3 separate regions of the Homo sapiens genome follow, and regions 2 and 3 are each linked to region 1. Evidence: fine-mapped expression QTL. A gene starts in region 1. Each other region holds a variant in brackets. All regions are shown on one strand. Distances are between the middles of the regions. Region 1 holds the start of TMC5-AS1 (TMC5 antisense RNA 1). Region 2 overlaps IQCK (IQ motif containing K). Region 3 overlaps VPS35L (VPS35 endosomal protein sorting factor like).

Region 1 (2,852 bases):
CAAGGGCGTTGTGGAGCAAGGAAGAGAGAGAAGAGAGTGGATATGCCAAGAGGAGCAAGGGTGTTGTGGAGCAAGGAACTGAGAGCCCCAGTTTCACATGTGTCCTAAAAATCATCTCCCTTGTTCATTAATTCATTCAATTGTTCATTCAACCATGGCTTATTCTGTTAAGCACTGTTCTAGTCAGGCTCTGGGGACTTCATATTAAGCAAGTTCCTGCCCTATTGGGATTACATTCTGGTGGGAAAAACGGACAATCGTTGAGTAACAATTAAAGACTCACACAGAGGCATTCCTGATTATGAATGATAGAATGAAGGAAAGAAACTCAGGTCTGAGAGAGAGAAGCAGTGGGGAACTGAGAGCAGACAAGGAGGGCTGTGAAGATCAGATCTTGGAGAGGGCCTTGGAGCTGAGAATCAGAGGGTGGAGAGGAGGCAGCCAAGCAAAGGGAGTGGGAAAAGGACTTCACTCAGAGGACTCTGCCCTTGTTGGGAGGGGCTTGCTGGCTTCCAGGAATGGGGTGAGGGTGGTGGGGCGGGGAACAGTGGAGCCAAAGGGAAGTGGGGTTGGAGAGGTGGGAGGAGCCAGATGAGTCCTGCCTTTCTGTTAATTTAGATGAAGTTCTGTTCTGGATGTGGAGGAACGGGGTGGGGGGGCATCTCCCCATTCTGGGAAGCTTCAGTTCTTGGCAGAAGTGAGAAAGCTACTCCTGACCGTGGGCATCGGATGGGTGGTGATCAAACTAGGATGCATTCCCTCCCTGGCTTTTAGTGTCTGTTGGTTAGCCAGGGAACTTGAGTTAGGCACTGTATTAAGCATGTCTTTTTATTCTGATGTTTTGACATCTGGGGTCTTACTGACTCCAGCTCCCAGGGCTAGCTGCCCTTCCCTGGGCTAGCTTACAAAGCACACCTTTCAAATGCAAACCAACCAATCCAGATCCCACACCCGCAACCGCCCCCTTTATCAGGCTCTCACACTCTGGGCCACCACTCCCCTGCCCTAATCACCCCAGGGCCAGGTGCCAGACAACTCAGGGCGGATCCATATCCCACAGCCTACTGACAAACCAGCCAACCCTAAACCTGCTTCCCCTGCCTTGCCCATTCCTTACCATAGAAAACCACAATAAAGCCTCTAGCCCGTTTCCCCTCACTCCCTCTGCCTCCTGAACAACCCTGATGCTTCCCTGTGTGGTCCCTTGTGGCATAGAGTGCCCCCTCTTCTCAGGAACTGTGAGTAATAAACTATCTTTTTAGTGATGGTCATTCCTGACCTGTTGGGCTTCACCATACCTACATTATTTATTTATTTATTTATTTATTTATTTATTTATTTATTTATTTATTTATTTATTGAGACAGAGTCTCACTCTGTCACCCAGGCTGGAGCGCAATGGTGCAATCTTGGCTCACTGCAACCTCCACCTCCCGGGTTCAAGTGATTCTCCTGCCTCAGCCTCAAGAGCAGCTGGGATTACAGGCATGCACCACCACACTTGGCTAATTTTTGTATTTTTAGTAGAGACAGGGTTTCACCATGTTGGCCAGGCTGGTCCTGAACTCCTGGCCTCAAGTGATCCACCCGCCTTGGCCTCCCATAGTGCCGGGATCACAGGCGTGAGCCACTGCACCCGGCCTCACCACACCTGAATTATAATAAAACCTACGTTTTAAAACACACACCCATCCACCCAGTCTCTAAAACCTCCCCCAAGGCCACCTTCTCCTACCTCCAGATGGTGATGGCCAGGGTGCACAAGACCCCGGTGAAGGATGGGAAAAAGAGCAAGAAGATGAAGAAAGTCATCATCTGTGAGGCCCGCCAGGCTTTGCTCGGAGGCTGGAAATTCATCATCAGGCTGATCTGAAGAGAGAGAGGCAGCCACCTCCCATCTGCAGCCGGAGCAGCGGCAGAGGGACCCCAGCCAGGCCTGGCTTCCTGACACCTTTGCAGAGCCCCCTTCCCCAGCTTTAAGCGCCACCAGGTCACAGGTGACTGAACAAAGCTGATTGATGGCAATGTCGGACTGACTCACATTTTTGGAGTAGAACATGATGAAAAGCATAATCATTTGGATAAAGGGCAGCAGGGGGCAGAAGAAGATGCCAATCCTGTGAGGGAGAGAGGGTGAGTGTCAGAGGCTGGCGGAGACACAAGGAGTCGGGGTGAATCTGGGATGGTTGGGGGGAAGAGAAAGAAGATATTGTGGCCTGGATTGTGTGTCCCCAAAATCCATATATTGAGGCCTTAACCCCGAATATCTCAGAATGTGACTGTATTTGGAGACAGGGCCTTTGAGAGGTGATTAAGGTAGAATGAGATCACTGTAGGAGGCCCTAATCCAGTACAACCGGTGTCCCTAAAAGAAGAGATTAGGAGGCCAGGAACGGTGGCTTATGCCTGTAATCCCAGAACTTTGGGAGGCCAAGAGGGGGTGAATCACCTGAGGTCAGGAGTTCAAGACCAGCCTGGGCAACATGGTGAAACCCCATCTCTACAAAAAATACAAAAATTAGCCAGGCATGATGGCGTATGCTTGTAATCTTAGCTACTTGAGAGGCTGAGGCAGGAGAATCGCTTGAACCTGGGAGGCGGAGGTTGCAGTGAGCCGAGATTGTGCCATTGCACTCCAGCCTGGGTGACAGAGCAAGACTCCATCTCAACAACAAAAAAAGAAGAGATTAGGACATAGACACACACAGAAATGAAGACCATGTAAAGACATGGGGAGAAGATGGCCGTCTATAAACCAGGGAGAGAGGCTTGAGACAGATCCCTCCCTTATGACCCTCAGAAGAAACCAACCCCACCCGCACCTTGATCTTGGCCTTCTGGCCTCCAGAACT
Region 2 (2,852 bases), 260 kb before region 1:
AAAGAAACTTGACTATAAAGTTATAATAAGATTTTCTTGCATGGCTTACAAACTAGATCTGACGGCAATTCTAAGAGTCACAATGGGAAATGTTTTCAGCACCCACAGCCTTATCACCATGAGACACAGTAGGAATGAATGTCAGGTTGGGGATGGTTAATGGCAACAACTAAGACCTACTATTTGATAGCAAAACAGGGTAACTACAGTCAATAAAAACTTAAGTGTACATTTTAAAATAAGTAAAAAAGTCTATGTAATTGGATTGTTTGTAACACAGTTACTTAGGGGATGGAAACCCCATTCTCCATGATATTTCGCATTGCATGCCTGAAGCAAAACATCTCATGCACCCAATAAATATATATATCTACGACGTACCCACAAAAATTAAAAGAAAAAAAAAAAGAAATGAAGCTAGACTCTTTTTTTTTTTTTTTTTTTTGAGACATAGTCTCACTCTGTCCCCCAAGCTGGATCTCTGCTCACTGCAACCCTGCCTCCTGGGTTCAAGTGATTCTCATGCCTCAGCCTCCCGAGCAGCTGGGATTACAGGCACATGCCACCAGGCCTAGCTAATTCTTAGTATTTTTAGTAGAGAACTTGGTGGAAGTCATGTTCCAGGTCTTGGCTTTGCACTTTTGCTTTTACCCTCTTGGAAAGCTGCTGGAGACCACCACGCTGTAAAGGAGCTGGGCTGGCCCACTGGAGGATGAGAGGCCACATGAAGGAGAACCGAAGTGCCCCAGCTAGCAGGCAGCACCAGGGCCCCAGACACATGAGTGAGATAGAATTGGACCTTCCAACCCAGCCCAGTTACCAGCTGAACGCAGTCACATGAGTGACCCCAGGAGAGAGCACCAGAACTGCCCAGTCGGCCCAGAGTCATGAAAAATAATAAATCGTTATTTTAAGCCATGAAGTTTTCAGGTAGTTTACTGTACAACACAGCAATCAGGTAACTGATAAATAGGTTATATTATATCATCTAAGCATTTCATTTCAGGATAGCAAGAAGCACACTATACAATGCTATGACAAGGGAGCACTGGGCCCAGTAGGGTTGAGTCACGGCTCTAATTACTTCCAACTGCTTTTAAAATAAAACCCACTTTGTTTACTGGCCCATGTGATGTTACGGCCGCTGCGGGGCTGACCCTGTCAAACTCACCTCCTCTCTCTTTTGCTCACTCTGCCCCAAACATACTGGCCTCCTTTTTGTCCCTGGAATAGGTCACAGAATTTGGCAGTACTGGGTCATTAGTAAACTTGAGTTGTACCAGACATAGTGAGCATTTAAATGCCAGAGTGCCACATTAAAGAAAGAATGAATGGTAAAAAGATGTAGGTGAGGTGATTCACTGAGTGTGTCAGTGAAAAGGAAAGAGAGAAAGAAAATAACCTAGACGATGCAGCAGGGTCAAATATGAGGACTTGAAAATGTTACTTATCATTAACTTTTATTTTTCCTGATTACAAAGGTAACTCGTGCTTCTTTTGAAATTTTTT[AAT/T]ATACCCAAAATATTGGAATATTAAATATAGGAGAGCAAAGGGTCAAAACTTTCATCTCTTTCCCATCTTCCATGTGATTCTTCACTTATTGGCCAACGAATTTAGATACTATTATCTGCATTCTGTTACCTTTGGCTTGTTGTATACATGGCTGCATAAATCGCTATACACACAGGAAATGTCTGTACAGTATCTATTGTTGGCCACAGATGTACTTCCACCAGCTATTTGTACAAAGCAATCATTTTCCGTTATTTACCTTTCACAGAGTATATTTGTTTAACACAATATAAAATACTGCTAGCACCCAGCTAATTTCACAGCAAAACTAGAAGGCCATTGGCTTTATTTGTAGATTGTCACTCTAATGCCATACAGATGCCACTTAAAAAATCTCAATTACTTTTTTTACATGATTGAAAATGACCCTTTGAGAAAGGGTTAAATAAATCTATTTCACTTGTTAAATTCGTATCATGAAATGTGGAGGTCTTGATCTAACTCTCAGGCTGAGATAATTCATGGAAATCATGTGCTTAAGGTTTATTCTCCCAATTGTAATCTCCACCAAAAATTAAGGATTAGGGAAATACCTGCCTATTAAATATGCTGAATTTTACATTGAGCATTTAAAATAGAGTTAAATATCTAAGATGGGCCAGGTGCACTGGCTTATCCCTGTAATCCCAGGACTTTGGGAAACCAAGGCAGGAGGACCACTTGAGCTCAGGAGTTTGAGACCAGCCTGGGCAACACAGTGAGACCCCATCTCTAAAAATAAAAATGAAAATAATTTTTAAAATGAAAAAATATACTATTTGTGTGCTTAGAGAAAAGAAGAAAAAATAATCTAAGCAGGAACAACTGTTTGTTTAGAAACTATATTAAATTCATAGTATTTAAAATGATATATATAAAAGAATCACAAGATGAGTGACTCAAAATCAAAATAATCAAGCTTGCATAGCTTTTGGGGAACAGGCCTGGGTTGAAAGGGTCTGCCTGATTCCAGAGGCTGGAATCATGGAATTGCTGAACCATGTACCACACAATGCCTGAATTCATGTGTGCAGACACACCTACACCTATACACACACCCACACACACCACACACCACACAATAGATGTGTGTGTAATTGGCCAAATGCTCTATGGCATAGTAATTAGGTGCCAGCTCTTGCTGTTTCTCTGTCTGCTCTGTTCCCCCTGGTCTTCCTTGGAGTTTCATGGTACTGGCAGGACAACCTAAATAAAAGGCTTGCTAACTTCTCACTCCTTTTCTCCACAGCCTCCAGACCCATCTTTCATGTCAGAATCTGACCTCTGCTTTCAGCAAGCTG
Region 3 (2,500 bases), 80 kb before region 1:
AGAAGGATCACTTGAAGCCAGGAGTTTGAGACCAGCCTGGGCAACATGGTGAAGTCCTATCTCTACAAAAGATATGAAAATAATCCAGGTGTGGTGGTACATGCCTGTGGTCCCAGCTACTCAGAAGGCTGAAGTGGGAGGATGGCTGGAGCCCAGGAGGTGGAGGTTGCAGTGAGCCGAGATCGCACCACTGCACTCCAAGCTGTTAAATTTATGTGGTCTCTGCCCCCAGTTCCTCCCACAGAGCTCCTAATACCCTAGGAGATTTCCTGGGTGATAGGAGCATCTTTTGTCCTAATAAGGTGACTCCCGATGGGCTCCTGCAGAGCTTCAGGATGGGGTCTGGTCACCAGAAAGACCAAGCCATGATTAGAAGATTGGAGCTTTCAGCCCCATTCCCCATCCTTCGGGAAGGTGAGAGGGCTGGAGACCGAATGAATAATCAATCATGCCTATGCAACGATGCCTCAAAAAAAAAAAAACATGAAAAATGGGGTTTTGGGAGGCAGAGGTTGCAGTGAGCTGAGAATGTGCCATTGCACTCCAGCTGGGCGATACAGTGAGACCCTGTCTCAAAAAAAAAAAAGGGGGGGGCGGTTTGAAGAGCTTCCAGGTAGGTGAACAAGAACACATCGAGGTACCTGGAGGGGACATGAAAGCTCTGTGTGCCCCTTCCCCTGGGCCTCACCCTACGTAGCTCTTCATCTGGCTGTTCATCTGTATTCTTTGTAATATCCTTAATAATAAACTGTTAAGTACAAGTAAATACTAAATAATAAACTGGTAAGTATAAGTAAATGTTTCCCTAGTTCTGTGAGCCACTATAGCAAATTATTGAACATGAGGGAGGGAGGCATGGGAACTCCCAATGTGTAGCGAAGTTGGAGTTTCTGAAGTGAAGATGTCTTTTTTTTTTTTTTTTGGAGACAGGGTCTCGCTTTGTCACTAAGCCTGGAGTGCAATGGTGTGATCACGGTTCACTGTACCCTCGACATCCTGGGCACAAGCAATCTTCCTGCCTCCGTCTCCTGAGTAGCTGGGACTACAAGCACACCATCACACTTTGCTAATTGTTTTTTTACT[T/C]TTTGTAGAAGTGGGGTATCACTATGTTGCCAAGGCTGTTCTCGAACTCCTGGGCCCAAGGGATCTTCTCATCTAGCATCCCAAAGTGCTGGGAGTACAGGCATGAGCTACCATACTGGGCCAGGGCTGTCTCACTGAGGACCTTGCCCTCAAACCTGTCGAGTCAGATGCCAACTGCCGGCGATGGCTGCCTGAATGGAGTTGAACTGCAGTCTAGGGGAGGGAGAGAAGCACCTCCCATTGGGGTACATTTGCTGTTTTTGTCTGCCTGGCACCCATTCCTCCACCTCACAGGCTTAATACTTAATACCCCAATTTTTATTTGAGAAAACATCTCTCCCCCACACTCAGTTCCTACAGGCCTGGTGGGGTGAACTCTGTTCTCAGTTCCCAAGGTGAGCATTAGACCTACCCCAATCTATCAACTTATTCTATACAGCAGGTCACCAATGCTGGTTCAGGGTAGGGCGCATAACAAAACTGGGTCAATGAAAACTGCTTGAGAAAAGCATTTTCCTGCTGCTGATGTTGCTAACCTAACAGGATAGGCCTGGAGCTGCAGCAGCTCTTCTCAGCTATTCTGTTATGGTATGGGTGTTAAATCAAGTTTAGCCTAAAGCTGTCTCCTTACCTATTTTAAGTTTGGCCTAAAGGTTTCTCTGCACATAGTGAACTATAACCTCATTGGACATGTAAACAGAGTGTAACCTACTCTTGTGCCAATCACCAAGTTTTGGCCAATTAAAGGGGGCCAACTGGGCCGGGCACAGTGGCTCATACCTGTAATCCCAGCACTTTGGGAGGCTGAGGCAGGCGGATCACCTGAGGTCAGGAGTTTGAGACCAGCCTGGCCAACATGGTGAAACCATGTCTCTACTAAAAAGACAAAAAAATTAGCTGGGCATGGTGGCGGGCGCCTGTAGTCCCAGCTACTCAGGAGGCTGAAGCAGGAGAATCACTTGAACCCGGGAGGTAGAGGTTGCACTGAGTTGAGATTGTGCCATTGCACTCCAGCCTGGGCAAGAGTGAAACTCTGTCTCAAAAAAAAGAAAAAAAAGGGGGGGGCCAACTGTTCAAATTGGGTTCAAATAAGGCAAATACTGAACTGTAACCAATCCGGCTGTTTCTGTACCTCACTTCTATTTTCTGAATGTCACTTTCCTTTTTGTGTCCATAAATCTTCTACCACGTGACTGTGCTGGAGCCTCTCTGAACCTACTCTGGCTCAGGAGGCTGCCCAATTCATGAATTATTCTTTGCTCAATTAAGCTCCATTAAATTTAATTTGGCTCAGAATTTTCCTTTTATTTTTTTGAGATGGAGTTTCTCTCTGTTGCCCAGGATGGAGGGCAGTGGCGTGATCTTAGCTCACTGCAACCTCTGCCTCCTGGGTTTAAGTGATTCTCCTCTCTTAGTC

Evidence for each region. PIP is the estimated chance that this variant, and not a neighbour inherited with it, causes the effect. A credible set is the group of variants that fine-mapping cannot tell apart.
Region 2: its variant is the best candidate, but not a certain one, in a credible set for the expression of TMC5-AS1 in whole blood (INTERVAL, PIP 0.51).
Region 3: its variant is the best candidate, but not a certain one, in a credible set for the expression of TMC5-AS1 in whole blood (TOPMed, PIP 0.67).

Annotation. Positions count from the first base shown.
Region 1 is chr16:19,486,210-19,489,061 of GRCh38, reverse strand. TMC5-AS1 (TMC5 antisense RNA 1) reads left to right here and starts at 1,161. Exons shown (of 3, transcript XR_007065016.1): 1 at 1,161-1,238; 2 at 1,742-2,133. TMC5 (transmembrane channel like 5) reads right to left here. Exons shown (of 22, transcript NM_001261841.2): 16 at 2,042-2,117; 17 at 1,736-1,869. RefSeq lists an enhancer at 366-1,054.
Region 2 is chr16:19,743,747-19,746,598 of GRCh38, reverse strand. The region is part of intron 4 of IQCK (IQ motif containing K); the gene reads right to left. Among named protein-coding and RNA genes, the nearest start is that of IQCK-AS1, 21 kb to the left of the region's middle. The variant AAT/T (reference allele first, on the strand shown) is at 1,510.
Region 3 is chr16:19,566,393-19,568,892 of GRCh38, reverse strand. The region is part of intron 2 of VPS35L (VPS35 endosomal protein sorting factor like); the gene reads right to left. Among named protein-coding and RNA genes, the nearest start is that of VPS35L, 12 kb to the right of the region's middle. The variant T/C (reference allele first, on the strand shown) is at 1,084.